Linked DNA regions of Homo sapiens: region 2 is linked to region 1. A link means that fine-mapping ties the variant in region 1 to the expression of a gene that starts in the linked region. Tissue or cell type: whole blood. Region 1 holds a variant in brackets; the other region holds the start of a gene. All regions are shown on one strand. Distances are from middle to middle.

Region 1 (8,100 bases):
ACTTCAAGAAAAGAAACTGCTGTAGAAGGAGGAGTTAGAAGCTGTTGGGGAGGTCGAACCATGGGCCCTGTTAGAGGGTGTGGCCAGCCAGCTGTGTGCCGGAAGGAACCTGTGGACCCGTGTGAGCAGATCAGGCCTTGTGAAGTGCTCCACCTCTCTGGCTTGCATGGTCTGGAGGGGAAGTACTTAAATATTGTAGCATAAAACATTCCCCCATAGGCTGTTAATTCTAAGAAGACAATGTTGCTGTCAGCAAAACAAGACGGTTCATATAGACAGGTGCAGGGTACTACAAGGAGACAGAGACCTGCCGAAGCTAAGCAGCGATTTGAGTTTCTGATGACAAATAGAGACGTCACTGAATTCCTTCCTTGTCCCCCCAGCAGATGAAGTCTCTGGGTGTCAATTCAGTTCACAATAATGCTAGGCCCTTAGGTTTGGAAAAGCAGGCATGGAAATGACAGCCATTTTCTATCAACCTGTTACAAAAAGAGACTAGTCTCAATCACTGTCTGTAATGTGCAGAAACTGCATCACTGGAATTGCACAGATGTTTCCAGAAGGAGAACAAAAGAGACCCAGACTCAGTTTTCACTTCCTGAGATTCAGGTCACTCTCCATATGGCCAATGTGGAGCCCTCTTAGTTTTAGGACACTCAGGCCCAGGTGGAAATATGAAGTCTCTGTGGACAGTGGATCATTTGCATGTTTCAAAAGGAAAATGTTTTTTTTCCATTATAGTAAATACAGTACATGTTAGCTATAAGAAAAATAACCATAAACAAATATTTCCTTGCTCTACCAGATGGGACGGCCTAGAAACAATACTACCCGGTAGCAGTTTACACATCCATTGCCCAAATCTTGGTCTCTTTAATTTTTTTAATTTTTGAGAAGTCTCACTCTGTCGTCCAGGCTGGAGTGCAGTGGCATGATCTTGGCTCACTGCAGCCTCTGCCTTTCAGGCTCAAGTAGTCCTCCCACCTCAGCGTTGGGAGTAGCTGAGACTACAGATGCATGCCACCATGCCTGGCTGATTTTCATATTTTTTGGGAGAGATGGGTTTTTGCCATTGCCCAGGCTGGTCTTGAACTCCTGAACTCAAGCAGTCTGCCCACCTTGGACTCTCAAAGTGCTGGGATTACAGCAAATCTTGGTATCTTAGTTTCTTTTCTTTTCTTTTTTTTGAGACGGAGTCTCGCTCTGTCGCCCAGGCTGGAGTGCAGTGGCGAGATCTCGGCTCACTGCAAGCTCCGCCTCCTGGGTTCATGCCATTCTCCTGCCTCAGCCTCCCCAGTAGCTGGGACTACAGGCGCCTGCCACTGTGCCTGGCTAATTTTTTTGTATTTTTCGTAGAGATGGGGTTTCATCGTGTTAGCCAGGATTAGTCTTGATCTCCTGACCTCATGGTCTACCCCCCTCGGCCTCCTGAAGTGCTGGGATTACAGGTGTAAGCCACCGTGCCCGGCCCCTGGTTTCTTGGTTTCTAACACTATTCTCCAACAAAGGGAACCAGGGCTCCCTTGAGAAATGGCGAATCGTAGGGCCGAGCAGGGAGTATATAGGAGGAATTGAGCATCTTGTGGTGCCAGAGCCTAAGGAGGTGCTCAAAGGAACCCACAAAGATGGTGCAAGTCACAGGGACCCAAGAGTAGCTGTAAAGGCTCCTAGTGGCAGCTGTGTGTCGTTGAACAACCCGAGCAACAAAGATGGGTAGTGATAGAGCATAGCCGAACTCTGCGTCAGTATCCACGAGACATAGCGCGTACCCAGAGTCTACGTCAATATCCACAAGACCATAGCGTGTACCCAAAGTCTACGTCAATATCTACAAGACCATAGCGTGTACCCAAAGTCTATGTCAGTATCCACGAGACATAGCGCGTACCCAAAGTCTACGTCAATATCCACAAGACCATAGCGTGTACCCAAAGTCTACGTCAATATCCACGAGACATAGCGCGTACCCAAAGTCTACATAAATATCCACAAGACCATAGTGTGTACCCAAAGTCTACGTCAGTATCCACGAGACATAGAGCGTACCTGAAGTCTGTGTCAATATCTACGAGACATAGAGCCTACCCAAAGTCTGCATAAATATCCACAAGACCTTAGAATGTGCCCAAAGTCTGTCAATATCCATGAGACACAGAGCGTGCCCAAAGCCTGTGTCAATATCCACGAGGCACTGAGCGTGCCTGAAGTCTGTGTCAGTATCCATGAGGCACAGAGCATGCCTGAAGTCTGTGTCACTACCCCTGCGACCACAGTAGCGTGGCCGAAGTCTGTGTCAATATCTGTGAGAACATAGAGCTGAAGAGAAACTGTCAGACACGACCTCAGCCAGGCGGTCGATGTCAGCATCCACTGTGATGAGTCCTGTTGATGGTGTGGACCCTTGATGGGATGTGATGAGATGGGCACTTCACCCCGGGGATCGTCCTAATGATTCATAACCCCAGTCTAATGAGAAAGACAGCAGACAGTCCCAGTAGAGGGGCACTCTATAAAACTCCTGAGCCATCCACACAGCTATCATGGTCCTCAGAGACAAGGAGAGTCGGAGAAGCTCAGGGCCCAGAGGAACCTGAGGAGGCGACAGGACGAAACGGCCAGTGGGACCCTCGACGGGATCCCTGGGCAGGATGAGCTGCGGAGCACTGGGGCAGTGAATGAAGTGTGGGCCACGCTCCCGGTAACGGGTCAGTGCCGGTTCCTGATCCGTCACAAGGGCGCCAAGGAGAGGAAGGTATTCATGCTGGGAGGACATTGGTGTGGGCGTGTGAGAGCTCTCGGTACTATCGTCTCAATTTTCTGCAAATACAAAACTTCTAAAATAGTGTATTAAAAATAGAGAATTAAAGTGCAAACAAATACAAAGATGAGATGGAAATGGATGGGGGCCCTCCACCCAGGGTGAGCGTTTTGCTGGCTATCTCCCTCACAACCTTAGGTCCCAGGTAATGGGTGTGGCACCAGGACTTGTAGGGCATGGGTGCTGGGGAACAGTGCACCTGGTCCAGCTGAGGCTCACTTGAGGCAGAAGACTAAGGGCTAAGGGACATGGAGCGCGTTGTTTTCGAAGCTTGGAGAAGTCTTTCAGTGGGCAGTGCCTGCCCTCTGCACACAGTAGTAACTTGATTTCTGCTGTGAAGCCTGAGTCGTGTTATTTGGAAGGCGGTGGGGATCCACCGGGATCAGGAACAAAGAGTGACTCTGTAATGGTATCAGAGGCCCCTGTGGTGGTTTCCACACAGACCAGGGCTGCTGTGGAAGCTGTGCGTGCCCCGACAGGAACTCTAGTGTACTGTGTGATCGCGGCCATTAGAAAGGTGGCCTCTTCAGATGGACCCATTTGGGGGATAAAGCCTGTCAGGTGGTGCCAGCCCTGAGCACACTGCAGGCACGCTTTGGAGCTTTGGGGCTGGTCTACAGGGAAGGCCTCCAGCCCCTTCCATCCAAAATGCGCCCACAGGGTTGGGGGGTCTGTAAGCAACCACTGTAGCTGCCCCCGGTTCTCACACAATTCCTTTCCATTGCAGAGAGTTAAGAAAGACGTGGACAAGGGCACACGGCACTCAGACATGTTCCTGCTGAAGCCAGAGGACGGAAGAGAAGGTAGAGGTGCTGTGCCTCCAGGGCGGGAGCTGGCTGGTCTGTGTGTGGCGGGAGGCAGAGCCCACACCCTCCCATGGATGTGGGGCTGGCGGTGAGCCCCTGCACCCTGCCCGGAGCGGAGGGCCTGCCGAGATGGCTCATTTCGGGGTGGGCCGGGTGGGACAGGCTCCATAGCCCTGGTGTCTGCTGGGCAATCACCTTTGGGGGCATTGATGATGGACTGACTGAGAAGCACGGGCGCTGTTACCCTGCAGACAGCCCTCTGTGGAGCAGTGAGCACAGTGCCCCTCAGCAGCTCCTGATGGGCCCCTCCAAGGGTCTTGAGCTCTCGAAGGGAGAACCATCCTGGGCCTTGAGTACAAGCCACCAGGAGTCACTGGGGCTGCCTGGCACTGTGGTGACGGGCCTCGCTCTTGGGGTGGTTGCGGGCAGCAGCTGGGCAGGCTGGGTGTGGGCTTCCCAGCCAGGGGTCGGTGTTGCTCATGCACAGAACTTCAGAAGTCATCACCGAGACTGCTATTGGCCCTCACAGGGACGGCCTCCAAGAACGGCCGTGGCCTCTGTCAGCTTGAGTTACTGAACTCGGGGCTGTTAGAATGCCTAGATTTCTAAAAGCTTTTAGCTAAACTGGGATCTAAGAATCAAAATTTTCTTACTAAAGCACAGGGGAACAATCATCATTCTCTGGGACTTTTTAAAAGGATGACATGGGATGACCTAGGGGACAGCCCTTTACATGGCTCTGGCACCCAGAGGGCCCAGGATGTGTCAGCCACTCTCACCACCTTCTACACATGGCACGTTTCATGTTCCTGGGCGTGGGTCATGTGCTGAGATGAACTGTTGGCGGCGTTTCCTGCCAGTGGCTGCCCGTCAGTTCTCACAGACCTCTGAAGCGG[A/G]AGAAGCCGTGCCTGTGTGGAGCATGGGCGGGGGGATGGGGGTGGCCTGCTACTTTTCAATCATTAATTTCTTGATTTTGAAAAAAATTGCATTTGTTACTGGCTGGGCGCAGTGGCTCATACCTATAATCCCAGCACTTTGGGAGGCTGAGGTGGGAGGATTGCTTGAGGCCAAGAGTTTGAAACCAGCCTGGGCAACATAGTGACACACCATCTCTTAAAAAAAAAACGTAGCCAGGTGTGCTGGCGTGTGTGCCTGTAGTTCCAGCTACTCGGGAGGCTGAGGCAGGAGAATGGCGTGAACCTCGGAGGTGGAGCTTGCAGTGAGCCGAGATTGCACCACCGCACTCCAGCCTGGGCGACAGAGCGAGACTCTGTCTCAAAAAAACAAAAAAAATATGTAGCCAGGTGTGCTGGCGCACGTCTGTAGTTCTAGCTACTGGGGACGCTGAGGTGGGAGGATTGTTCTAGCCCAGGAGGTGGAGGCTGCCGTCAGCTGAGATCGTGCCACTGCACTCCAGCCTAGGCAACAGAGTGAGACTCTGTCTCAAAAAATAAAAAATAAATAGAAGGAGACAATGGCATTTGTTCTGCTCCAGAGCAAGAGAGTGATGCCAGGAGGCACAGATCAAGGGTGTTTGCCGTGGAGTTTAGCGTCCCCAGTGCCGTTAGGAAACCAGGGGACAGCTCTCTTATGGGAGGCTGTGGCTTGGGACCAGAGGGCTGGGCTAGACCCAGGAGACCCAATGCCTAGGCCAGGTCTGCTTTTGTGACCCACAGCAAGTTCTCCAGCCTCCCCAGGAGAGGGGACCATTGTGCAAAGTGTTTTTACCTCCTTCTTGCACTAAAATTCCTCATGCTGAGGCCTCAGAAATACCCGAAGGGTTAATCTGAGTCCACACCCATTTGCCTGTCAAAAGGCCCAGGTGCCTCTCCCAGGGCCCTGCCTTACTGCACCCTGGCTGATAGGACAGACGCCTTCTTTCAGTCACTTTCCAGCCTACACCCCAGTGAACTTGAACCTGGATGCTGGACTGTTTCCCGCAGGGCGGCCCTGAGCCTGTGTGCTCTGCTCGTCAGCCCCCAGGAGGAAAGCATCGTGGTGAGGAGCGACACACCTTGTGTGTGTGGGTTTCTGTCACCGGAGAGGGTCCTGCCCTGTGTGGCGAGTTCTTGTGGTGGTCTTCCCTGTTCCTTCACACAGTCATGTGCTGGTGGGAATGAGGCGGGGGCCCCAGAGCCACGCCCACACTGGGCATGGGCGGGTGACGTCTAGCACCACACAGAATACGTCCATTTGCTGCTTCTGTTTTTTTTTTTAAATGTTCATTGGAGGAAAAAAATCTCCATTCTGTCTCCTAGAAGTGGTGGGGAGACATCTGCACATTGGGCTCTGTTTGAGGGTTGGCACATCACATAGGCGCGTGCCAAGAGAGAACATAGACCCTTCCTGAAGTAGAGCTGGCCACACTGCAGCCCAAGGTGGGGCTGGTGCAGGCACTCAGACCCCAGGCGAAGGCTCCTCGCTGGCCACACTGCAGCCCCCGGGCGAAGGGTCCCTGTGCAGGGCGGAGGGTCCCCGTGCAGGCCCAAGGGCGGCTGGCACAGGCATTCAGCCCCCTGGGCGAAGGGTCCCCTTGCAGGGCGGAGGGTCCCCGTGCAGGCCCAAGGGGGGCTGGCACAGGCATTCAGCCCCCTGGGTGAAGGTTCCCCGTGCAGGGTGGAGGGTCCCCGTGCAGGCCCAAGGGGGGCTGGTGCAGGCCACTCAGCCCCCTGGGCGAAGGGTCCCCGTGCCGGGCGGAGGGTCCCTGTGCAGGGCAGCCTCCCCACAGAAGCCCCTCTGTGTGTCTAGCGTGTGTGCTGCTTCTGCCCAATCCCTGCCTTTCCACTGCGGCTTGTAGCTGCCCCTAGTTTAGAGGTGCTTGGGGGTGTGTGGAAAGCTGTTGAATGCCAGCTCTCTTAAGGAAAAGGGTGGAACTCGAGGGGAGTTGAATGGTGTCTGTTTTTCTGCAGAGGGAGCAGAGTTTTTGCCCACAGTCTCACGGTTTTCATTTACCCCATTCTGGGGGGCACCTGGGGTCCTGAGCGTGTCCTGGGCTGGCTCTCAGGGTCCTTCCTTGTGTTCTTATCCCACTTCCTTGTTCTCTTTTGACAGACAAGTGGGTTTGGACTCGGATGAACCCTTCGGGGGTCAAGCCCACCCCACGGTCTGGCTTTTCCGTGGCCATGGCCCCGAATCACCAGACACTGTTCTTCGGGGGTGTCTGTGACGAGGAAGAGGAGGAGAGCCTGTCGGGCGAGTTCTTCAACGATCTGTACTTCTACGACGCCACCAGGAACCGTTGGTTTGAGGGACAGCTGAAGGTAGTGCAACCTCTGAGTAGCATGCGCCGTGGTGCGCAGCCCTAACTTGGGTCCCTGCCACCACTGCCTTCCTCCAGCACCTTTTGGTATTGGGGCCCCCAAAGCCCATGAGCTCTCTCAAGAGGGGCGAGGGTTCCGTCTCTGACTGTCCTGGGTGACTAGGCTTGGAGAGCCCTTGGTCACGGTCCCCTTAGTCTGTCCTGGATGCTGGCGGGGCTGCTACCTCAGAAGCCAGTTGCCCTGGGCTGAGGTGCCCGGGACCTCCCCGGCCCTCTGTGTGAGAAGGGTTTGCTGGAGGTCCTGGTGTGGACCAGCCTGTGTTATGACCCTTGAGCTTCCCTGGTTTCCGACACCATCTTTACTGTCCACGTGAGCATAGCTGCTGTCCAGGGCCAGCCCAGCACAGGCACAGCAGTGGGTGACAGTCCCAGAAGGGGATCCCCCAGTTGGCCTCAGGGTCTCTGAGTGTACCAGGTCAGCCGGACCCAGAAAGGGCCAAGGAGGGCTGGTCGCTGTTGGTTGCAAACTCCTGAAGCTGCTTTTGACGTGTGGTGGCACCTGGGCTGGAAATTGGAAAAACACGCGGGTTCGTTTCTGGACCCACAGTCCGCCTCGCTCTTTTACTTTAGAAGGAATTGCTCCAAGCAGAGTCTACACAGGTTTCCCCTGTGGCTTTTCTTCAGAGAGCGTGTTGACCCCAGCTAGTGTCACGGTTCTCACACTGTGATCTCAGGGCCGTTGACATTCCCCAGGATTACGGAGGACCTCAGAGAGCTTTCCCTTTTGAAACTCACTGTTGCAGAGTCCAGACACAAAGTGGATCTTAGAAGTCTAGAATGTGAAGCTGACTTTGGGTTGATCTGGAGGTAGTGATCCTTGGAAAATTTGGAAATAACCTGGCAAATGTCACCTCGTGAGCTGGCAGCGTTTTGTGACAAAATGACAAAGGCTGTGACAGAAGGGTCCAGACTGACCCCTGCGACGCAGCCAGGGAAGTGGGACAGAGAGGGATGGACAGCTGTCCTGCAGGAGGCAGCCTGACCTGAGAGCTCCCCTTTAAAAACGTTTGGTGAGGAAGGGCCCCTCTCTGGCTCGCCGTTTGTAGTAAATGAGCTGGGCTTGTGGGCCTGACCGTCTGTCTTGCTTGGGAAAGGGGAGGAAGCCCCTCAGCCTGGCTTCCCCAGCCCTTCTGGGAGCCAGCACTGTGGGTGATTGG
Region 2 (8,100 bases), 53 kb before region 1:
TACATATTAAATTCTACACTTTAATTTATTGTTTTAATTAGAAGAACATCACTTATTGCTTTATGCTATGACACTGGAAAATCGGCCGGGCGCGGTGGCTCATATCTGTAATCCCAGCACTTTGGGAGGCTGAGGCGGGCGGATCACGAGGTCAGGAGATCGAGACCATCCTGGCTAACATGGTGAAACCCCGTCTCTACTAAAAATACAAAAAAAAATTAGCCGGGCATGGTGGCGGGCGCCTGTTTTCCCAACTACTTGGAAGGCTGAGGCAGGAGAATGGCGTGAACCCGGAAGGCGGAGCTTGCAGTGAGCCGAGATAGCGCCACTGCCCTCCAGCCTGGGAGACAGAGTGAGACTCCGTCTCAAAAAAAAAAAAAAAAAAAAAGAAAAAAAATTGGACAATCTTGATGAAGAAGACGGGACACATGTTTCCAGGTTTCCAATTTGGAACTTCAAGGCTGACAAATTCCATACTCATTTCTCATCATCCCTTGAGGCCCCTCCTGAGTGGGTGGCCCTTCTCATAGGGCAGGGGACAACTGTAGATCCCTCTTGCTCCTCAGCAGCCACCTGCCTCACCCCAGCCACCTGTGCACACTTGAAATATATACAGTTTATTGTATATAAGCAACACATAGATAAATCCCTGATTATAGTTGGAAATCTTATTATTCCTCTCTCTGGAATGGATTCAAAGAAGTGGGAAAAATTCAGTAAGGCCAGCATGGTGGCTCACGCCTGTAATCCCAGCACTTTAAGATGCCCAGTCGGGTGGATCACGTGAGGTCAGGAGTTTGAGACCAGCTTGGCCTACATGGTGAAACCTTGTCTCTATAAAACATACAAAAATTAGCTGGGTGTGGTGGCAGATGCCTGTAATCCCAGCTACCTGGGAGGCTGAGGTAAGAACTTGGGAGCCGGAGGTTGCAGTGAGCTGAGATAGTGCCACTGCACTCCAGCCTGGGTGACAGAGTGAGACTCTGTCTCAAAAAAAAAAAAAAAAAGCCTTTGTGTTTTGCTTTTTTACTTCCCTAAGCTTTATTTTATTTATTTTTAATTTTTATTTTTTGAGACGGAGTCTCACTCTGTCGCCCAGGCTGGAGTGCAATGGTGCGATCTTGGCTCACTGCAAGCTCCGCCTCCCGGGTTCACGCCATTCTCCTGCCTCAGCTTCCCGAGTACTGGGACTACAGGCGCCCGCCACCGCGCCCGGCTAATTTTTTGTATTTTTAGTAGAGACGGGGTTTCACCGTGTTAGCCAGGATGGTCTTGATCTCCTGACCTCGTGATCCACCCGCCTCAGCCTCCCAAAGTGCTGGGATTACAGGCGTGAGCCACCGCGCCTGGCCTCTTTCCTAAGCTTTATTATTGTTTCACTTGATTTTCCCAAGAATCCTGTGTAATAGGTGAACTAGTTCATTATTCCCACTTTCCTGCTGGGAAACGTGCAAAGAGCCACGTAATCCATACCACACTTGGCAGAACCTTCCAATCACATTGATTACTTGTGGTGAGGATAATTAGAAGTTAGCATATTTTCCTAAAATTTAATCTATTATTAATAGATTTTTTTTCTCTTCTGCACTTCAACTTGAAGGCAGCAGAGGGCGCCTGATCACACAAAAGATACACTCTAAAAGTCAGCGACAGATTAAAGATAATCCATGAAAGTTTCAACAATGTGAATTTTACTAAAATAGAGCCTTGTACTTAATCTTTTGACTATTTTAGGATCTGATCTCATTTTAGATGTTCTATTCCGTCTTTCTCAGTATGAGAATTTCAGTCTCACGTAAATCACCATGACACCTATAATCCAAGAGCCTTCTAATTTAGCTTCAAGCTTCTTTCAGATAATAAAAGTATTAAACCCCGCATCCACCAGATCCTCCTAAATCTTCAATAGGTCATACGCTCTCCCTGTCTCCGGCCTGAAGTGGGCACCACTGTAATGTACTGCAGCCAGATGTGCTGTGAATGAAGAGCCTTTTGGCTTCAAGTGCATTGCCTCAGGTTTACCCAGGATTTTTAGAAAAATATTAAAGGATTACGTATGTTCTTAAAGTCATAGTACACTAGAGGGGACAGAACTATTTCCCGAGGGCAATAGTGAGGATTTAGCCTTTTGTAGTTCGTCATGGAAGATAAACATGCCTGGATGCCCAGGCTGGGTTTCTGTGAAATTCTCCAGCTCCTTTCTGCTCAGCTCCTAACCGGTTTTTTTTTTCTACCACCACATAGGTTTCCTACAAGCAGTGCTGGAGACCATGGTGGTCTTCAACCAGTGCTATCTTTTCTTCTCATTATTTCCCCAAATTTCATTTTTCTTCTTAAAGAGCTAGGTTTATGGATAAGGCTTGGAGTGGGTTGGAAAATCATTCCTCCTCAGCTGCTCAGTGACTAGTCATTGATTGGATCTAAGGTAACTTTTTTTGTTTTTGAGACAGAGTTTCGCTTTTGCTGCCCAGGCTGGAGTGCAATGGCGTGATCTGGGCTCACCGCAACCTTTCCTCCCGGTTCAAGCAATTCTCCTACCTCAGCCTCCTGAGTAGCTGGGATTAAAGGTGCACACCACCACACCTGGCTAATTTTTTTGTATTTTTGTAGAGACGGGGTTTCACCATGTTGGCCAGGCTGGTTTTGAACTCCTGACCTCGTGATCTGCCCACCTTGGCCTCCCAAAGTGCTGGGATTACAGATGTGAGCCACTACGCCTGGCCGAGTTAACTTCTTCTTTTTTTTTTTTTTTTTGAGACGGAGTCTAGCTCTGTTGCCCAGGCTGGAGTGCAGTGGTTCAGTCTCGGCTCACTGCAACCTCTGTCTCCCAGGCTCAAGCCATTCTCCTGACTCAGCCTCCCGAGTAGCTGGGATTACAGGTGCGCACCACCATGCCTGTCTAATTTTGTATTTTTAGTGGAGATGGGGTTTCACCATGTTGATCAGGCTGGTCTCAAACTCCTGACCTCAGGTGATCTGCCTGCCTCTGCCTCTCAAAGTGCTAGGATTACAGGCGTGAGCCATCACACCTGGCTGGATCTAAGATAACATCTTTTTTTTTTTTTTTTTTTGAGATGGAGTCTTGCTTTGTCGCCCAGGCTGGAGTGCAGTGGTGCAATCTCCGCTCACTGCAACCTCTGCCGCCTAGGTTCAAATGATTCTTTTGCCTCAGCCTCCTGAATAGTTGGGACTACAGGTGGGTGCCACCACACCTGGCTAATTTTTTTTTTTTTTTTTGTATTTTTAGTGGAGACAGGGTTTCACCATATTGGCCAGGCTGGTCTTGAACTCCTGACCTCGTGATCAGCCCGCTTCAGCCTCCCAAAGTGCTGGGATTACAGGAATGAACCACCACGCCTGGCCTAAGAGAACTTTTAAAGGCTGACTCACACACAAAGTAATAAACTAGATTATTTCCTGATTTATGCTTTCCCTTTGCCAAATTTTGGCTTGTCCTTGTCCTTAATTTGCCTTATTCCTTGATTACCCATCCAAAGATGACATCTTCTAAGTAGTGATAAGCATTTTTACTCTGCTCTTTCAAATCATAACATTCCATGCACTGCAGATGATTTTGCCATTTCTTACGTAATTTGAGGCAAATCCTAGAGTACAATTTCCTAGCAGGCATTTGGATATTACCTATCTTTATTTCTCAGGCTCCACAAATTGAGTACCCTTTCAGGGTGCTATCATTAGCTCTAGCCTACCTATGAAGAAACAAAAGTCCTCCATGTTAGGACATTTGAGGACATGCCCTTAGTACCTAACAGTGTCTGGCACATTTTAAATGGGAAGGTGGAAGGGCCCCCCCATTTTTTTTTTTTTTTAAGATGGAATTTTGCTCTTTTGCCCAAGCTGGAGTGAAGTGGCTTGATCTCAGCTCATTGCAACCTCTGCCCCCTGGGTTCAAGCAATTCTCCTGCCTCAGCCTCCCAAGTAGCTGGGATTACAGGTGCCCACCACCACGCCTGGCTAATTTTTGTAGTTTTAGTAGAGACGGGGGTTTCACCATGTTGGCTAGGCTGGTCTCGAACTCCTGACCTCGTGATCCACTCACCTCGGCCTCCCAAAGTGCTGGGATTACAGGCGTGAGCCACCGCGCCCGGCAGGGACTGTCTTACTCAGGATCTGCAAAATCTTATAACTGTGTGAAATTTTTTTTCTGGGAAAAAAGCACTCATTTGTTTGGTCTGAGGGGAAAAAATGGGGCTAGCCCAAGAGTCGCCCACTTAGTTCTACCCAGGGCGAAGCAATGTGCCTTAACGGGGGGCACGTGCACCCCGGAAAACTCAAGAGAAAATGAGCCGGGCGTGGTGGGCTCCTGTGGTCCCAGCTACTCCAGAGGCGGAGGTTACAGCGAGCCGAGATCGCGCTACCGCACTCCAGCCTGGGCGACAGAGCAAGACCCTGCCTCAAAAAAATAGAAATAAAAAATAAAACTCAGAGGGCACGTCTCCTAGGACACGGGGACAGGCTAGGTGGGGGCACAGGGCGTGAGAATTGGCGAGCATGGCCGGGGTATGTCAGGCCGGGGCTGCCATCTTTTTTGTTTTTTGAAACAGGATCTCGCTCTGTCGCCCAGGTTGGGGTGCAGGGGCGCATTGCTGCCTGGAACTCCTTGACTCAAGCGATCTTCCCGCCTCACCTTCCCGAGGAGCTAGGACCACTGGGCGCGAGACACCACGCCCGGTTAATTTTTTTTTTTTTCTTCTGTAGCGACTGGGGGTGGGGGGTGGTGTCTCGCTTTGTTGCCCAGGCTGATCTCGAACTCCTGGACTCAAGCGATCCGCCCGCCAAGGCCTCCCAAAGCTCCAGGGTTACAGGCATGAGCCACCGCGCCCAGCCCGGGGCCGGTCATCTTTTCCGGGGCCTTATGCAGAGTCCGAGGCCCCCGAGCCCGCTGCCGAAGACGGAGCTCCAAGACCGAACCTCGTAAAGGGCCCAGCCGCACCTCTACCCGGAAGCGGCTCGAACTCGGGGCCGGAAGTGACTCCATTTCTGTGCGCCGAGCTCCGCCCCACGAGCACCTGTTTCCGAGCGGAGAGCGCGGGCCGTTTTCTTTCCTGGTGTCCCGTCGCGGCTTGGGACCCGGCAAGATGGGCAAGAAGGGCAAGAAGGAGAAGAAGGGCCGCGGCGCGGAGAAGACGGCCGCCAAGATGGAGAAGAAGGTGTCTAAGCGCTCGCGGAAGGAGGAGGTGAGCGGGTCAGACCGGGCTTAGCGGCCCGACGTCGCGGCCGTGCAGCCTCGGCCGACTCCCTGCGCCCCCCGGGGTTACGGGTCGGCCGTGGGAGCCGCGCCGGCCCTGCGGGAGAGCTGGAGGCCGTAGGAACTGCCCCGGCGCCGCGTCCGGGCAGCCCAGACGGGGCCCGCCCCCTCCTGAGTCTCCACGTGTGTCTGTCCGCTTCTCGGAGCTGCCCCCTTTAACGTGCTTGCTTTTCTTAGTGTGGTGTCACGGGCGTTTTTCTGCGTTTCCTCCCCCTCCTCCCTTCTCCCTCCACCCTCCCTCTGAAGGGAGGCTGGGTGGTGAGAAGAGGGAGGGGTTTGGCACAGGAAGACCTGAGGTTGAGCCGGGGGCTGCCTCTGCATGATGTGTGGTCTGGGAGTAAGACTCTTAACTTTTCTGAACCTTACTTTTCTTTCAAAAGAGGGCAAATAATCATCACAGCAGCCCTGAGCAGTGAGCAGCAGATGGTTAAGTGAAGAAGGCACTGGAGCCACGGGGTATCCCGTAGCAGCTGATGGCGGCCATCACGGTTGTCTCCTTCCCTCTGGTCCTCAGCCCGGGGTCTGCAGGAGGATCCGTCCTGACCTTGGGGTTGAGTGTTCTGCGGCTGCTGCTCATGGATTCCCTAACCGGGGCCAGTTTTATGGCCTGCCGTGCGCCAGGCACAGCTCCCTGGGCTTTACTCCTCACGAGCAGGTCAGTTCCGTAGCACTGGTATTCCCATTTGACAGGAAGACCAACAGGTGAACCATGAAGTGGTATGGAACTGGGATGTGACCAGATGTCCTGAATCAGGAGCTCTTGACCACAGTCCTTTGTCCCTTTTCTTCCTAAGTCATTGATCTCTCCATGTCCTCATCTCTTAAATAATGGAGTTGGACTTTTCCCTCACACTCCTCTTAGGCTCTTTCTTTTTTTTTTTTTTTTTTTTGACAGAGTCTTGCTCTGTCACCTAGGCTGGGCTGCAGTGGCATGACCTGCTGGCTAGGGTTGTGGCACAGGAAGTCAGTTCATCTGTGTGGTATCTTCAGAATGGTGCTTGGCAGAAAGTAAGCACTCAGTAACCAGCTGTTAGCTGCTTTCTGCTTTTTTTTTTTTTTTTTTTTTTTTTTTTTGAAGGAGTTTCACTCTTGTTGCCCAGGGTGGAGTGCAATGGTGCGATCTCAGCTCACTGCACCTCCGCCTCCCAGGTTCAAGTGGTTCTCCTGCCTCAGCCTCCCAAGTAGCTGAGATTACAGGCATGCACCACCACACCCAGCTAATTTTGTATTTTTAATAGAGACCGGGTTTCACCGTTTTGGTCAGGCTGGTCTGGGACTCCTGACCTCAGGTGATGCGCTCGCCTCGGCCTCCCAAAGTGCTGGGATTACAAGCCGTAAGCCACCTTGCCCCGCCAGTTACCTGTCATTTTTACTCATCTCCATGTCTCCCTCCAGTACCCAATACTAAGGTGATTGTAACAGTAGCTTCCCTTAAGAGAGAGAGCCTGTCAGGCCTGGGGTTTGTATGTTATCTGAATGAACCCTCAAAACAAACTTTTAAAATAAGTGGGCGTCTGATTAGGCTAGACCCACAGAGGATCATCTCTTTCTTAAATTCAGCTGTGTCTGTAATACAACCTAATCACAAGAGTGGTATCCCATTCTTTCACAGTCCTGGCAATTATTGGGGGAAGGATTGGGGACAGTTTGGAATTCTGCTCCCACAGAACTCATGTATCAGGTCACCTGGTTCGCACCTTCACTTAGTCCTGGCCTCTGCCTGTCTTTCCAGCTGTCTCCCTGGGCTCACTCCAGCCACAGTGTCTTTTAGTGTCTCAAACATGGCAAGTTGTGTCTGTGGTCTTACCTATACCCCAACCATACTCCGTCTGAGTCGTCTTTTCAGCATTCAGCTTATTGTCACTTTGGAGAGGCTGTCACTGGCTAGGCCACTGGCGTCACCCAGACCCTACCACCTTGCTCTCCTTCAGTCACCCAATGATGATGAGGTTCAGCCAAGGTCAAAGACCGCTCTAAGTAGCAGCAGCAAAGCTTTCGCGGTACATAGACGTTAGTATTTGAACTGTTTGTTTAACCTCGTTGAGCAAAAAAAGCAAGTTGAAAGAATATACAGTATGATACCATTTAATGACATTTTATTTTTTATTTTTTTTGAGATGGAGTCCTGCTCTGTCACCCAGAGCAAGTGTCGCAGTGGCATGATCTCAGCTCATTGCAACCTCTGCCTCCCAGGCTCAAGCAATTCTCCTGCCTCAGCCTCCCGAGTAGTTTGGGACTACAGGTGTGCGCCACTGTGGCCGGCTAATTTTTGTATTTTTTAGTAGAGACGGGGTTTCACCGTGTTGGTCAGGCTGGTCTCGAACTCCTGACCTCAAATTATCCACCTGCCTCGGCCTCCCAAAGTTCGGGGATTACAGGCGTGAGCCACTGTGCCCAGTCCATTTAATGACATTTAAAAATGTAAAACAATACTATATGTTGCTTAGGGATACACATGTGTAATAAAAGATTGAAGAAAAGCGTGAGACTAATAAGCATCGAGTTCCAGATAGTGGTTACTTGAGGGAATGTGTGGGTGGGTACATGTGGGTGACACTTTATTCCTTACCCTGGGAACCGTATACAGGAATGTCTTGGATAAAGTTCTGTTAACTTGTGTGTTTTAAATATTGCATCGTTTAGAATACTAAGCAGTGTACCCTGCTGACATTCACCCTGAGATGAGAGGTAGACTGAAGGAAGCACGAGGTGGGGCGTGGCAGGCTGAGGGAACCTGGCGTTTTCATTGAAGGAACGGAGAGGACGCTGGTGTATCTTGGAGAGTGAGGCCAGGTGGGAGGTGAGGTTGGAGAGGTGGGTGTGGGGGAGGG

The links. PIP is the estimated chance that this variant, and not a neighbour inherited with it, causes the effect.
Region 2: it holds the start of KLHDC4, and the variant in region 1 is fine-mapped to the expression of KLHDC4 in whole blood (TOPMed, PIP above 0.99). The same link has a PIP of 0.9 or more in blood mononuclear cells.

The regions. Positions count from the first base shown.
Region 1 is chr16:87,710,019-87,718,118 of GRCh38, reverse strand. KLHDC4 (kelch domain containing 4) reads left to right here. Exons shown (of 12, transcript NM_017566.4): 8 at 3,546-3,621; 9 at 6,676-6,884. Among named protein-coding and RNA genes, the nearest start is that of KLHDC4, 52 kb to the left of the region's middle. RefSeq lists a silencer at 1,156-1,344. The variant A/G (reference allele first, on the strand shown) is at 4,521.
Region 2 is chr16:87,762,890-87,770,989 of GRCh38, reverse strand. KLHDC4 (kelch domain containing 4) reads left to right here and starts at 5,004. Exons shown (of 12, transcript NM_017566.4): 1 at 5,004-5,198. The coding sequence starts at 5,100. It overlaps LOC105371399 (a long non-coding RNA gene), which reads right to left and starts at 4,949. Exons shown (of 3, transcript XR_933871.3): 1 at 4,649-4,949. It overlaps LOC102724467 (a long non-coding RNA gene), which reads left to right. Exons shown (of 4, transcript NR_120309.1): 4 at 4,566-4,659. RefSeq lists enhancers at 4,909-4,968, 5,049-5,108, 5,092-5,716.